Homo sapiens: one gene and its partner. The protein of the gene in region 2 purifies or fractionates together with the protein of the main gene of each other region. This does not show direct contact. Each region holds a gene or a part of one and is shown on either strand. Other genes may lie near its edges.

Evidence for each region. Proteins that work in one complex are often made in the same cells at the same time.
Region 1: the proteins of NUP50 (region 2) and CDCA2 purify together in Homo sapiens (affinity purification with mass spectrometry; 4 studies listed by BioGRID and IntAct, with this or other methods). This does not show direct contact.

What each region holds. Positions count from the first base shown.
Region 1 is NC_000008.11:25,475,623-25,483,690, forward strand, and holds part of CDCA2 (cell division cycle-associated protein 2), read left to right. Parts: intron 1-4,290; coding exon 4,291-4,502; intron 4,503-7,776; coding exon 7,777-7,864; intron 7,865-8,068. UniProt on the Homo sapiens protein: Regulator of chromosome structure during mitosis required for condensin-depleted chromosomes to retain their compact architecture through anaphase.
Region 2 is NC_000022.11:45,159,000-45,167,286, reverse strand, and holds the start of NUP50 (nuclear pore complex protein Nup50), read right to left. Parts: upstream 3,363-8,287; 5' UTR 2,991-3,362; intron 2,617-2,990; exon of another isoform or gene 2,332-2,616; intron 1,423-2,331; exon of another isoform or gene 1,171-1,422; intron 1,008-1,170; exon of another isoform or gene 857-1,007; intron 1-856. UniProt on the Homo sapiens protein: Component of the nuclear pore complex that has a direct role in nuclear protein import. Actively displaces NLSs from importin-alpha, and facilitates disassembly of the importin-alpha:beta-cargo complex and importin recycling.

The DNA.
Region 1 (8,068 bases), on a different chromosome or scaffold from region 2:
GACCTACAGTTGCTTCTCGACCTGGCGAAGACCTGATGGGAGCACCCAGGCTGTGTGGGGAAGCTGGACAGGGATTTTAACCTGGAAGACCCACTAACCATGTTTCCTGCAGTTTAATACTGCTGGCTGGTTTCTCTGGTGTGGCATCTCTGTTAGCTGGAATGCAGGAAGCCACCAGAATTCGCTCTCTGGTGGCTGTGATCCCCATCCCACGTTCTTTGTTTTTATCTGCCCCCCAGTGGCCCAGCCTTGCCAGTACTCCCAGTGTTTCCTGGGGGACAAGACAGGAGTGCAGCTCCTGCGAAGTATCCCAGAATGGTGGGGAAGCCAAACGTCTGCTTCCCACTCACTCTTCCCACTGTAGAAACTGTGGGTCCAGGGGAATTCTCTGTGTGTGGCACTGTGCCAGTTGGGAGAAGGGCAGCACAGTCAAACAGAAAAGTTTCTTACCACTTGTTTGTGGCTTTTCTCCATTCTGGGGTCCAAGGAGGTGTGTCAACCTCACTCCCAAATTCTGGGATATTCAGAATGTTATTTTTGCCTGCAGATAGTTGCTCATTGGATTTCTCTGGGAACAGGGAATGAAGCCACAGAACTCTTACTCCACTATCTCCCCCACATCACTCCAGTGTTTTTGTTTTATATCAAAGTACACATACGTAAGGAATTAGATATAATTCAGATTTAACTGGGCCCCTGCATCTTTATTTGCCAAACCTGGCAGCTCTACTCATGAGTGATCTGAGAGAAAGTTCCCTGGTAGCCTTTTGCAGTTCCTTGCTTCCTGTACCATTGAGAAAATAAGAGATTTTGGGAGCAAAGGTCTTGGTCCTCTCACCCCTAAGCCCTCCTGCATCTCTGTATGTGTGTATCTACCTTTGCTCCTCTTTCAAAAGGGTCTCAATGTTCTTACCTAGGGCCAGCCTCTTTTTTTTCTTTTTTTTTTTTGAGATGGAGTCTCACTCTGCCGCCCAGGCTGTAGTGCAATGGTGCGGCCCCAGCTCACTGCAACCTCTGCCTCCTGGGTTCAGGTGATTCTCCTAACCCAGCCCTCCTGAGTAGCTGGGACTACAGGTGCCCGCCACCACACCCAGCTAATTTTTGTATTTTTAGTAGAGATGCTGTCTCACCATGTTGGCCGGGCTGCTCTCAAACTCCTAACCTCTGGTGATCTGCCCACCTAGGCCTCCCAAAGTGCTGGAATTACAGGCATGAGCCACCACGCCTGGCCTCTACCCTCTTTTTTAGGGACTGATTCCCATTGCTCCTTCTCCTTCTAAGGACCTTGTGTCTGAGTTGTCTCCTCTCTTTTCTGAATTGTTAACTTTTCTTATTCAGCTACAAGATGCTGTAAAATATCCCATCTTAAACTTCCCTTTGCCCCAGGATTGCCTTCTAGCCAGAACACCATTTCTTTACTCTACTTTAGGCAAAACTTTTAAGAGAAGGCCACACTCTGTCTCCTTGCCTCCCATTCTTTCTTGATCCAGCTCCAAATAGGCCTTGTTGACCAGCCATCTCCTGGCTGCCAACCCAGTGGTAGTCAGACTCAACACATTCCTTTCCTTGATGTCTTAGCAGCACTATGGACGGATATAGACATCTACAACCAGGCCCTCCTGTGAGAAGCCTTTTCCTCACCTGGGTTTCAGGATGTCATTCTCATTTTCCCTTGCATCACTGACCATTTCCTCTTTGTGTATTTTCTTTGCTCCTCTTCTTTCATCCTGACCTTCAAATATTTGAATGCCCCCCCTCGACCTTCATGTTCGGTGCTTGGACCTTTTGTCTCTATATACAGGTTGAGCATCTGTAAGCCAAAAATCCAAATTCTGTAACTTTTTGAGTGCAAACATGACACTCAAAGGAGATGGTTATTGGAGCATTTCTGGATTTTCAGGTTAGAGATGCTTGACTGGTAAGTAGAATGCAAATATTTCAAAATCTGAAAAAAATTTGTAATCTGAAACACTTCTGATCCCAAGCATTTTGGATAAAGGATACCCAATGTGAACTCTTTCTAGGTGACTTCAAACATTATCACATGCTGTTGACTTCAAATTAAAATAGTTGCCCGTGGCCTTTTCCCGGAACTCTTGAATTAAGTATCCAGCTCCCTTTCATGACCTTCACTTGAATGCCTAATAAACATCTCAAACTGAACATAGTCAAATAGGTCTTGATGATTTTTTCCTTCACCAACCTGCTCATCTCTGTTTTCCTCATCTTAGTAAATGACACTCTCATTCACCTCATTGCTGTATCTCAAATATTGGACTTAACTTGATACCTTTCTTTTTCTTTTCCTTTTTTTTTTTTTTCTTAAGTTAGAGTCTCGCTGTCACCCAGGCTGGAGTGCAGTGGTGTGATCTTGGCTCACTGCAGCCTCAACCTCCTGAGCTCTAGGAGTCCTCCTACCTCAGCCTTCCAAGTAGCTGGGACCACAGGTGCTCACTACCATGCCCAGCTAATTTTTTTTTTTGGTAGGTACAGGATCCTACTATGTTGCCCAGGCTGGTCTCCAACTCCTGGGCTCAAGCAATCCTTCCATTCCACCTTGGTCTCTCAAAGTGCTGGGATTACAGATGTGAGCCACTGCACCCAAGTGATACCTCCCTTTTTCAAATGAAACTTGTAATCGCATTGACAAATGCTACTAGGTCTTCAAAATATGTCAAATGTCCACCCACTTCTCACCTTTTGCATTCCTATCAGTGTGGTCCAGGCCATCACCATCTCCTGCCTGGATTTTTTTATGTATCCTCTGAAGTGGTTTTCCTGCTTCCCCTCTTTCCCCAATCCCCTGTTACAGTTTTTCACACAGTAGCCAGAGCACTGGTTTTAAAATGTAAGTCACAGTATCTCACTGCCCTCCTCAAAATCTTTCATCGACTTCCTGTTATACTTAGAGAAGTAGCCAAAGACCATATTATTTCTACTAGGCCTTCCCTGGCCTGGTTCTTAACCTTTGCTCTGAGCTTATTTCTCAGCTCTCTTGTCCATGCCCACTGTTCCAGCCACAGCAGCCTTGCTGGGCCTCTGCTATGCCAGGTACATCTTTACCTCAGGTCTTTGCACTTGGCTTTGTGTGCATAATGTCCATCCCTAGATCTATGTGTGGTTCGCCTTGTTCTTTTCAGGTGTCTGCTCAGGAACTCTCTGTTTACCCAAAGCAGTAGCACTTCCTTCCAGCTTATCATACTGTATTCCTCTCTTGCTACATTATTTTCCTTAATAGCATATATTAACTACTTGTTGTGTGTGTGTATATATATATATATATATATATATTAACTTTTTACTTGAAATAACTATAAATTTGCTATCTAGTTGTAAGAAATAATATAAAGAAATCCAGTATTCCCTTCACCTAGTTTCCCGCAGTAGTGACATGTTGCATAGCTACGATATATTAATATCACAACCAGGAAATTGACATTGCTACAATCCACCAACTTGTTTTCAGATTTCACCAGTTTTACATGCACATACTTTTTGTGTATGTTTAGTCCGTGTGGTTTTATCACATGTGGATTCATGTGAGCACAGTACAGCCAAGCCACAGCATGGTTCTGTCCTGAGGATCCTCATGTTACCCTTCATAGCCATCACTCTTTCCCTCTCCCTCCTCCCTGCTGTGAGATTTTATAATCCCTGCTTATTCCGTGCTGGTTTTGGGGGTTTGCTCATCTTTACTTCTTCAGCACCCAGAGGAGTGCCTGTCACATCATGTATTTGTTCAATGGATCACTTAATCATAAGGCAACGCTCTCCTGTGGGAAGAATTTGGGAAGAAAAGCCACGCCTGTTTGGGGCACATACAGTGTGTTTATAGTTTGGTGTGATGATCTTTCTTTTCTCATTCCTGCCACCCTCGGATGTTGAAATGCCTGTGACTCTAGCGGTAAAATTGCTTATTAGTCAATGCTTGGCTCAGATTAGTTTTTATGGTCCAAGTAGTGGGTGTCATGAGTAGAGGCACGCTAATAGCTTATAGCTGATTCATGATACCTTCTTTCAACCTCTGACTCAGAGATTTCCTGGGGAGCCAAATCCCCATACCCACTTTACCCTTCGTAGTCCGATTTGAGGTAAAAACTGACCGATGCTGCTTCTTTACCTCCTTTTCTGTTTCCAAATGAAATCCCAGACGTTACTGCCCAATCAGGTTATATTAGGTTTGAATTTCTTCATAGCATGTTATTATCTTTGCAAATACTATATTTTTGGTCTAGAACAAACAGATTTAAGAGATCTTCTGCCTCTCAAGTTTACATGTTTATCTTGAAGCACTAAAGGTTGCTGACTGTGTAGTGGGCAAAGGATCAAGTGATGCCGTTTCGCCTGACACGTTCACAGCAGAAGTGAGCTCAGACGCAGTCCCTGATGTCAGGTCACCAGCTACTCCAGCCTGCAGGAGGGACCTTCCCACCCCCAAGACCTTTGTACTTCGTTCTGTACTGAAGAAACCCTCTGTTAAGATGTGTCTAGAGAGCTTACAGGTAAGAAGAGAGTTAAATTTCCTAAAGCAAATGAATAAAAATGCATTTTGCTTCAAAGTAATACCCTTGAAATGTCATATATCATGCTAGTTTAAAAGGAAATGTCTTACTCGTCTTACCGTAAATTTTTTTCCTCATCTTTTCTTATTAACAACACTGGGTGTAGTTTCTTTTTGTTCTTATTTTTAAAAAATTAAGTATCGTATATAGCATGCAGAATTTAATGTAAGTAGACTGTAGTTTATAAAGGGTCATAATCTTACATAATCTTATTGCACTAACATAATTATATGTTATTGATTCATTTTATATAATTATATAAGTGATATTAATTACTTAATCATAATTAATGTGTCAATCTGTTAAACTGATCATTCCACCCAAAATATTTAGTCTTAAAAGTACCTCTTATAGCCATCCTTTTTTCTCGAAGCTCAGTCAATATGAGGAAAGAGAAAGTTGATGGGAACTAGCTGGCATTTATTGAGTAGTTTCTGTTGACAGTTCTGGCATATATATATAACAGTAGTGCTCCGAGAAAGGTATAGGACCTGTTTGACATACACTTAGGCTTGTAGGTTGTTAAGTGAACCCAGATAAGTCTGCTGTTAAAATCCATGACAGGCTGTCAGTCCATGAGAGGTTGAGAGCCTAGCCTCAGGAGTCAAAATGCCAAGTTTCAGATCTTGACTTGGAAATGTAATCACTGAGCAAATTATTTGACCTTTCTCTGCCTGGTTTCCTTATCTATAAAAATGTAAAGTTGGTAACTACTTTTAGAGTAATTTGAGCATTAAATGGGATAATATAAAATCACCACGAGTGTCTGGCACTTCAGAAATACAAATCTTTTTTTCAAACCATAAGCATTTTAACATACAAGTATGCCTACAAGCCTGTTCTGATTTGTTCTGAAGCCAAAAGGAACTAAATTACCTTCTATTTACATGGATCATTGATGGTCAATTGCTATTTGTAAAGCTTTAACAATTTTGTTCAAAGAGCTGATTTGGGGCCAGGTACAATAGCTCACACCTGTAATCCCCTGACTTTGGAAGGCCAACACTGAAGGATCGCTTGAGCCCAGGAGTTTGAGACCAGTCTGGGACAAAAAAAAAAAAAAAAAGCTGATTTGGGTCTGTAATACACACAGCACTGTTTGTTCATATCTTCTCCTCAAAAAGACTTAACATCTGAACGATCCATGGAACTCTTACTTTCTAACAATATGACACAGCAAATATTAAGTCTTGTCATTAGAATCATGTGAAAACATTTACAACTGGCCGGGCGTGGTGGCTTATGCCTGTAATCCCAGCACTTTGGGAGGCCGAGGCAGGTGGATCACAAGGTCAGGAGATAGAGACCGTCCTGGCTGACACAGTGAAACCCCATCTCTACTAAAAATACAAAAAATTAGCCGGGCGTAGTGGCGGGCACCTGTAGTCCCAGCTACTCGGGAGGCTGGGGCAGGAGAATGGCGTGAACCCAGGGGGCAGAGCTTTCAGTGAGCCGAGATTGTGCCCCTGCACTCCAGCCTGGGCAACAGAGCGAGACTCCATCTCCAAAAAAAAAGAAAAGAAAACATTTACAACTAATGATCTTTATACTAAGATGGCAAAAATTAGGAGGCATATAAAATGTGAGTTGTTTGCTGACTTTTCTGATTTAGTTAAAAATAAATCTAAAAGTAAACATGAGCTTTGTTGTATAAGTTAACTTATTTTGCAATATTGGTATGTACATTTTCCTGGTCAGAAAAATGAACTGACTTGAGAGACAGATGAAGGAGATTTGTTTGGGGCAGGACTATTTCTTAGAGCAGGTAATGTTCTTAGAATTGGATGTACAGGAGAAAATGAGGAATTCTTGATAACAAGGACTGGTCAGAGGTTTAGGTTGAGGCCGGATGAGTAGGTGGTGATTAAGAGGGAACTTTGATCCAGTCTGCAGCCCTGGCTGTCTCCTGCTGAGCTCCAGGGGCCCTGTGTTTAGACTCGTTCTGTCTTTTTATACAGGGCTTACAATATCCCTTCTTTCCTAACTTGCCTACACTGTATTCTTTATTTGCAGAAACACACAGGGACAACTGCTACCTTCTTTCCTTGTTTCTTCCTCAAGAATATAGTAATGTAAAAAGATTCAAATACTAAGAATAGGTGTGGTTCCCATGTTTAAAAGACAGAACACGATGTTATACCATTTAACTGTTGGCTTTTTTTCTTGTTTTAATGCAGTTCTTCTATCTGGGATCATTTACATAGTTTTCCTCATCTGACACCATATATGGTACTTGTAACCTTCAAATCTGTTGGTTCTGCATCCATGGATTGAACCAACCACAGATCAAAAATTATCAGGGAAAAAAGTCACAAAACACATAAAAACAATAACATATAACAGCATCATACCATACATATTAACAATACCATGTAACAATGCCATTTAAAAGTATTCTTTTAGGTTGGGCTCAGTGGCTCCCAGCTGTAATCCCAGCACTTTGGGAGGCCGAGGCACACGGATTGCTTGAGCTCATGGGTTCAAGACCTGCCTGGGCAACATGGCGAAACCTCGTCTCTACAAAAAAATACAAAAATTAGCTGGGTGTGGTAGTGCGCACCTGTAGTCCCAGTTACTCAGGAGGCTGAGGTAGGAGAATGGCTTGAACCTGGGTGACAGGTTGCAGTGACCTGAGATTGCACTGCTGCACTCCAGCCTGGGTGATAGAGCCAGACCTTGTCTCAAAAATAAATAAATAAATAAAAAGTATGCTTTTACATGACATTTACATTGTATTAGGTATTATAAGTATTATTTAAAGTATACGGGAGGATGTACTCAGGTTGTATGTAAATAGTATGCCATTATATAAAAGGGACTTGAGCATCCGTGGATTTTGGTATCTTCGGGGGCCCTAAAACTAATCTCCCATAGATATTGAGCAATGACCATATGCTATTATTCTAGCTACTCACGTTTTCCTTAGCTTTATTTGCTAGATCAAACATTGAATGAATTTGACCCATGTTTATTGATTTCTATGCTTTAATTTTGCCCTAAAATTCTGTTTTCTAAAGTAGTATCTAGGGGACATAGTTATGATTTGTGCCTGATATCATGGTTTTGAGCCAGAACAATTATTGAAAATAAAGGTAATCTTTAATACTGGAATATCTATCTGCAGTTGACAGAGAATTTCAAAACTGCTGTTCTTAATGATGACGTCTATGTATTTCTATATGTAAAATTATTCATTAATGTTTATTCTGTTTAGGAACACTGTAACAACCTCTATGATGATGATGGGACTCATCCGAGCTTAATCTCAAATCTCCCAAACTGTTGCAAAGAGAAAGAAGCAGGTAAGAAATTCATACTTGTTTTTAAGCTTGAGGATATCATTTTCATGTTAGTAAAACCTAGTATAATATATGAAATTTTCAATGATCTATAATGCCTTAGTGCTTCTGAAATAACACGTGAATGAAGAACAGTTGAGAAGGTTAGAATCTCCTTGGAGAGCCTCAGAATTGGTCTGTCCATTTCATGGATCCATTTTTACTTAG
Region 2 (8,287 bases):
CAGCTGGACAAAAAACCTTTCCATTTCCCCTGCTACCCACCTCGCCCAAAAACTTACTGATTAGTTTTGGGGACCTGCCAGGTCTTGTTAAACCTGCCTGAACTCCTTCGTGATACTCTCCCCACTCTTGTTTGCTCTCAACACCACAATACACCAGAGTAAGCTTCCTTATTCTGGTGTATTGTGTAATACAGAGTGTATTACAACCCCACAAAGTGGTCGCTAAGATATGAGGTGACATATCACTCTTTAGTATCTAAAAGTAAAATGCAAATGCTGGTATTCCAAAGGCCTCTACAATTTGATGGCCAGTGGAGTAATTACATACGGGCTGTCAGCTTTTAATACATTTTAGTGATTTTTAAATTTTGTAAGTTTATGCTATTTTTCTGATTACAAATGATATTAAAGTCCAAGATTCTAAAATATAAAGGATGAGAAATAAATACACTTTCCATTCGCTGGGAACCCTCTCTTTTTAATGTCCACCCAAAAACACTTGGTTAAGTTTTGCCATTAATCTTTGTCATACAAACAAAAACAAATACAGGAATAGACATAATTCTTTACTGTGCAGAAACCAGGTCTCTGTACGGATTCTTTTTGGCAATTTTCCTACTCATTAACTAATGTCTCCACCAGAGGGTTGGAGAAGTAAGAAGTCACCAACGGTCACGTTTGCTATTTAAGATTAACTGTGGGGCCAGCGAAGTGCCTCACGCCTGTAATCCCAGCACTTTGGGAGGCCAAGGTGGGCAGATCACTTGAGGTCAGGAGTTTGAGACCAGCCTGGCCAACATGGTGAAACCCCGTCTCTACTAAAAATAAAAAAATTAGCTGGGCGTGGTGGTGGCACCTGTAATCCCAGCTACTCCGGAGGCTGAGGCAGGAGAATCTCTTGAACCCAGGAGGTGGAGGTTGCAGTGAGCTGAGATCGCGCCAATGCACTCCAGCCTATGTGACAGAGCAAGACTCCATCTCAAAAAAAAAAAAAAAAAAAAAAGAAAAAGAAAAAAAAATTAGCTGTGGAGAAAAAAGGGATGGAGCTGAATACACAAAAACTGTAATAGTAAAATTGTAACTTCTAACTCATACCCACAATGAAGAGACAGGTGACGCAGTAAAATAGTCTAAATAAATGTAGGGGCTTCCACGTCCTAACATACTCACCAAATCAGTATATAACCAAAACGCAGGGATCTTTGTTTTGTTTACAGATATACTCCAAATGCCCCAACAGTGCCCAGCTCAAACAGCAGGTGTCCTGTCTGTCATTAGATCAGTGAGCTGGGGAAGTATTTCCCCAGTGAGCATAAAGTATTTCAAAAAATACTAAAAGATGCTGGCATCCCAGTTTTGCCATTTTCTAGCTGTGAGAACTTGGGCAAGTTATATTTAATTTTTGTGCCTCAGTTTCTTCATCTGTGGAACAGGAAGTATTAAGAAAGTTAAGATAAACAAAGACTGGCTTAGAACAGTGCCTGGAGCAGAGGAAGGGCTTAATAAATTATTAAAGAAACAAGTTTTATTAGAAGCAAAGGCTATAAACTATCATTTTCCCTCCAAAACGTAAAAGTTGTAGCATGGAAGAAGAATAACTTGGATTACAAACCAGATTTTTACAAATATTTTACCAAATCCCTATTTTATTTCAAAGCATGACACTTCAGACAATACATTTTACTTTTATGCTAGAAGTGGGGGGGAGAAAAAACCCTCTGTAAAATATTCAGAACAAGGCCTGGCACCTGGAGTCTTATGTCTAGCTACTGTTATGAAGAACTTAAGGGAGGCGGAAGGATCTCTTGAAGCCAGGAGTTGGAAACCAACTTGGTCTCTACGAAAATAAAGATGGACATAGATTAGATGAATAGAAATAAAAAATTAGCCGAGCGTAGTGGCGCACGCCTGTGGTCCCAGCTACTTGGAAAGCTGAGGCAGGAGAATCACTTGAGCCCAGGAGCTTCAGGCTACACAGTGAGCTACCACTACACTGAGGCCTGGTGACAAAGCAAGACCCAGTCTCAATCAAACAATCAATAAAAGGGAATTTAAAAAACGTTTGCGTTTGTGGGTAAAAAACCAAATTAGACATGATTTCTAGGTATGAAGCAACGTGGTGGGAGACTGAAAGTCTAGGTAAACTGGAAAAAAACATTATTTGTGCCTGATATAGTTATGTGGTCTCTGGCATCTGGTGTAGCTCTGCCCTTGGAAAGCTCAACTTGTCAACATCACCTTAAAACGAAAACACAGATTTGGCTACACTTAATAGTGAAGTGCCTTGTTGGAGGAAAACAACAAGGGGGCCAAGTAAGGAGACAGAAATACCTAATCTCCAAGCTGGTTCTTAATGGAACCGAGCAAATGGGTGATGAATAACCCGGGAACGCAGTAAGACAGGCCAGAGAGGTAATGCGCCCAAGAGAAGAGAGACGAGGGGCGGCCAGGGGGAGAGGAAGCTCGAGAGGAATCGCTAGGAAGGAAACGGAGAAGACCACGCCAGGACAGCCCTGCCAGCCCCCTACCTCCGGCGGGGCCGCAGGGGAGAGTCTCACTCGAGTCGGACGCCGCAGCCCGGTGGGGCCCGGGCCCCGCTTCAAAAACAGCCGGGGCTGCGTCGCCGCTGTCATCCCACCCCACCCTCCACCCGTCGCTCCCCCACCGCGCGCCCCGCCCGGCCCGTGCGCCCGACCCAGGCTCCCTCCCTAGAGTCCCGACCTCTAGCCCTGTACCCCACTTCCCAGGGTCCCGTCCTCCAGCCCCTTAAGCCCCTCCCCAGGGTCTGGTCCCCCGGCCCCGCACCCCTCCCCAGGGGCCCGTCCCCCGGCGCTGAACCCGCACCTCCCTCCCCAGGGTCCAGTCCCCAGCCCTGCACTCGCACTCCCCTCCCAGGCCCGAGCCCGCTCCCGCCCTCCCGGCCCTGGGCTCTCAGCACCAGGCTCCCGCCCTCAGCCTCTTCTCCTCCCGCGCCCGCCGCCGCTCCTCACCTCCTCGGCGGCCGCCGCTGCACTCGCTGGGTCTTGGTTGCGGCGAAACCCGGGGCGCAGCGGCGCAGGGGTCTGGAGCCCGCAGGGGTCGCCGGGCTGAGCGCGCTCGGCCGCTTCCGGTGCTGCGCTGCGGAACTCAGAGGACTTAGTGCTCGGCAAGCCCAGAGACTCAAACACCATATCCCTGGGGGGGCTCCTCACGCTGTGTTCGGCAGGGAGGCGAGAGCGCCGGTTCAGCCAGAGACAGCTGGGGGAACCGCGCCGAACACGCTCCGGGCGGCCATTTTGTAACTCGAATCTACCCCCAAAACCAATTCGAAAAAAAGGGAGGAAAGAAACGCCCGCGTTCAGCTACTGCGCAAGCGCGCCGGCGCTTCCGGCAGTAGCACCTCCTTCCGCCGGCCGGGCCCCTTACGCGGCGCATGCGCCCAGCTCCCTGGAAACCGGCGCGGGGCTGAGAATGCCGGTCTCGCGCAAGCGCGCACGCGCCGACCTTGATCTCGTAGCCGGCGCCAGCAGCCGCGCTTTGGGGCGTCGGCTCACGTGGGGCCGGCAACGCGTCTTCCAGGATGTTCGCGCGCTAGTCGCCGCTGAGGGGCCGGCGATGCGCGAGGAGTTCCGGCGAGGAAGGTCGGTCAGTGGACATGGCCGAGGCCCGCGGTGTCCGCGTGTGGGAGCTGCAGGGCTGAGGAGAGGCCGCCCGCAACCCTCGGGAATCGTGTGAGGTGCCACTGGGGTCGCTTCACATCAGGAGGCCCCGTCTCGGGGGACGCGCGCAGGTGACCCTGCTGGTCGTACCTGGCCGGGGTGGCCCGGAGGGGCTGGGTCTCGGCGCCAGGAGGGGCCGTGTGGGCCGCCTGTTAAAGGACCCCTCGTTCGCTGACATTTGATTTTGCATTGGGTGCCTTCTCTTCTGTTTTTTTCAGCCAGTGAGATCCGTCCTGGGCACTCAGCTGTAGAGCAGGGGAACGAGTCCTGCGCTTTTTGCGCTGAGGTCTCCTGGCCCGTAGGCCAGGCAGCCTCTGAGCTCCTTTCTCACCAGCAGCTTGCGATCCCTCATCCCTGGCCCTGTCACTCCCAGCTGTTTCCAGTGCCGCCCTTTTTTTTTTTTTTTTTTTGAGATGGAGAGTTTAACTTGTTCGCCCAGGCTGGAGTGAAGTGGCACGATCTTGGCCTACTGCAACCTCTGCCTCCCGGATTCAAGCGATTCTCCTGCCTCAGCCTCCCGAGTAGTTGGGATTACAGTCGTGCGCCACCACGCCCGGCTAATGTTTATATTTTTAGTAGAGACGGGTTTTCACCATATTGGTCAGGCTGGTCTCGAACTCGTGACCTCAGGTGATTCCCTCCCCCCGCCCCACCACCTCAGCCTCCCAAAGTGCTGGGATTACAGGCCTGAGCCACCGTTCCCGGCCTCGAGCGCCTTCTTATAAACTGGATGGTGGTTTTTGTTTTCACCTTCAAAGTCGAATCTCCCTAGTCCGTTTATTACCAGAAAGAGGTCTCCACTCAGACCCAGCGAGAGGCTTCTTGGATGTCGCGTAGGAAAGAATTCGGGGCGAGTCCACGGACTAAAGTGAAAGCAAGTGTATTAGAGAAGTGAGAAAGCAAAAGAATGGCAGAGCAGGGCATTCCTGAAAGCGGGAGGAGGAAGGCGCCCGCCTTAGGTACAGTGCTTGTTCAAATCTAAGGTAACACAGCCAAAGAAATCTTGGGGGACATGGGCTCTACCACGAGGGCCCACGACCAAGGTTTCATGCGCGTCCGTGTGAAGAGACCACCAAACAGGATTTGTGTGAGCAACATGGCTGTTTATTTCACCTGGGTGCAGGCGGGCTGAGTCCAAAAAGACAGTCAGCGAAGGGAGATAGGGGTGGGGCCGTTTTATAGGATTTGGGAAGGTAATGGAAAATTACAGTCAAAGGGGGTTGTTCTCTGGTGGGCAGGGGTGGGGGGTCACAAGGTGCTCAGTGGGGGAGCTTCTGAGCCAGGAGAAGGAAATTCACAGGGTTAATCACTTAGTTAAGGTTGGGCAGGAACAAATCACGATGGTGGAATGTCATCAGTTAAGGTGGGGCAGGGCCTTTTCACTTCTTTTGTGATTCTTCAGTTACTTCAGGCCATCTGGGCGTATACGTACAAGTCACAGGGGATGCGATGGCTTGGCTTGGGCTCAGAGGCCTGACACAAGGATTGTTCATCTTTGTTTACTGACTTTGGCAAAGATCTATATTATCTTTAAAGCGAAACCTAAATGAAGAATGCTTTTGATCTTAAGATATTGTTAGGTTTTGAAGGGAAGACGAGAGTTAAAGAATGACACACAGGTCGGGCGCTGTGGCTCACGCCTGTAATCCCAGCACTTTGGGAGGCCGAGGCGGGTGCATCACCTGAGGTCAGGAGTGGGAGACCAGCCCGACCAACATGGTGAAACCTCATCTCTACTAAAAATACAAAAATTAGCGGGGCGTGGTGGCACATGCCTGTAATCTCAGCTACTTGGGAGGCTGAAGCAGGAGAATCACTTGAACCCGCGAGGCAGAGGTTGCAGCGAGCCAAAATCACGCCATTGCACTCCAGGCTGGGTAATACAGTGAGACTGCGTCTCAAAAAAAAAAAAAAAAAAAAAAAAAAACAAAGGGCAGCTCAACAGCAACACAGGTATATGGCAAAAACCTACAGAGATGGGGGATCAGCTTAATGCCAGAGCCCACTGCTGCTTACAGGCTGGGGTACTTATAGGGCAGGAGGGGAATGGGCAGTATGGCTTGCCATGTGAATATACTTACCAGTATATCTATCCATAAAACGTTCTATGATCAGGCAGTTTGGCCCTTGTTCCCTCAGAAAGTGACAGTGATGTTCCTTGCACCTTTGCTGAGCAAGGTTTGATAGGGATGTTCCTTCAATTGGGCCTTTACCCAACAGGGTTTGGTAAGAAAGTTGGGCAGGAAATTTCTCACGGCCTGAACCCCCGTGGAATGTTTCGCTTTGACCAGTGTCTGCGAAATGGCGGGGGGCTTAGAAAATGGTGCAGTTTGGCAGGGCGTGGTGGCTCACGCCTGTAATCCCAGCACTTTGGGAGGCTGAGGCGGGTGGATCACAAGGTCAAGAGATCGAGACCATCCTGGCCAACATGGTGAAACCCTATCTCTACTAAAAATACAAAAAATTAGCCGGGCGTGGTAGCGGGTGCCTGTAGTCCCAGCTACTCAGGAGGCTGAGGCAGGAGAATGGCGTGAACCCAGGAGGCGGAGCTTGCAGTGAGCTGAGATTGCCCCACTGCACTCCCGCCTGGGCAACAGAGCGAGACTCCATCTCAAAAAAAAAAAAAAAAGAAAGAAAGAAAATGGTGCAGTTTGGACTAACAGATACAGCGACATCAAAATGTTTCCTGGGTCTGTTAAGTCCTGGGTTTGTTTAGTGAACGTTATTAATCTGTTCCTGTAACCCTAAACATCTTGTGACTACTAAGAATGCAGCCAACAGGTCTCTGCCTGATTTTACCTACTGCCTCTTCAAGATGGAATTGCTCTGGTTCCAATGCCTCTGACAAACTGGCTGCTTGATCTCTAGGTTGTGACCATGTCAGGGATAGAGGCAGCTTAGGTAGAGGTAGACTTTCTTGTACTCAACATTGAATTGTGGCTTAGTTAAAATCAGAACTTTCATTCTTGGAATAATACAGTATTGTAAGGGTAAGCCAAATGATTAACACATTTACTTAATTACACATTGTAGCATTGAAATAACTGATGCCTTTCTAATGCAAATAAAAAAGATTTATGTATATGATAGCACTGTAGCTGTCTTGCGCCTTACTGGATGGATTTCATTGCTGGCTAAAATGACAACTTTAAACTGGCTATAACTCAGAAGAATGGAGGCACTTTGCACGCAGACATCTACCTCCATTGAATTTGGCTACTTCCTTTTAATGAAGCTCAAGTCTCATGTTATGAAATACTCCTCCAAAGGTGTTAGCCCTTTTTTCCTATACTCTGCCTTTCAAAAATCCCTTTCAATTTGCTTAACCCCTGAGAGCCAAAGGACTGTGATGGTTGTTAGGCTGGGTCATTGTCATCATGTTCAGTAAATAAATACCCAGACATGTCAGTTTACCTACTTTACCTGATTCCAAATGAGTCCATGGTGATGTGATCCTGCCTTTCTTTCTGCTGTTAGAGGTCCATGCCAGGAGCCAGCTTTGTATCAGTTTTGCCACAGTGATCAGGTCATAAATGTCTCAGATCATTCAAGCCCAGTTTAACCTAGCAAAGAAAATGGCAAGATAATATTGCTGTGTTCTAGCTGTGTTCTGGCCTTCATTTTAGGTAGGCTTAAACCTCGACCTGGAGTCATTCCTGTTACGATTTACCAGAAAACACCCAACAGGAAGCCTACAGAACTACACTTTGCTCCTAATGTTAAGGAATGAAAACAGGAAATGTTCTGTTATCTGCCTGGCAGTGGGGCTTTGGAGTTAATCTCCTGGCCGTATCACTTACCAGCTTGGCAGCCTTGGACAAACTGAGCTCTGAGCTCAAGTTTCCTCATCTGTAAAGCGAGGGTGTATTATGTACCTTCATTTGGTTGTACAGATTAAGTGTGAACACTTAGGTAAAGCACACAGTATGGGGCTGAGTAAATGGACTGTTAAATAAGACAGTATCACTTGTTTTTAAGTTCCTTGGAGCTTTCTCCCCTAAACAGCTCAAAAGATTTTCATTTTTTTCTAATGCTAATATTTTTCTAATTCTTGTTTTAAAATATTTTACTGTAAAATATTTTGGCCAGGTGTAGTGGCTCACACCTGTAATCCCAACACTTTGGGAGACCAAGGCAGGAGGATTGCTTGAGCCCAGGAGTTGGAGACCAGACTGAGCAACATAATGAGACCTCGTCTCGTCAAAAAACAAAAATGGAAAATTTTTAAAAAACAGGCCGGGCATGGTGGCTCACGCCTGTAATCCCAGCACTTTGGGAGGCCAACGTAGGCAGATCGCTTGACCCCAGGAGTTTGAGACCAGCCTTGGCAACATGGCAAAACCCTATCTCTACGAAAACTGTTTAAATTAGCTGGGCGTGGTGGCACGTGGTGGTTCTAGCTACTTGGGAGGGCTGACGTGGGAGGATTGCTTAACCCCGAGAGGTCGAGGTTGTAGTGAGCTGTGATTGCACCACTGCACTCCAGCCTGGGCGACAGAGCAAGACCTTGTTTCAACACAAGTAAAATATTTGTGAAATGGGAATTCAGTTTCATTTTTTTTTTAACTGATCAAAAATATAACTTTCAC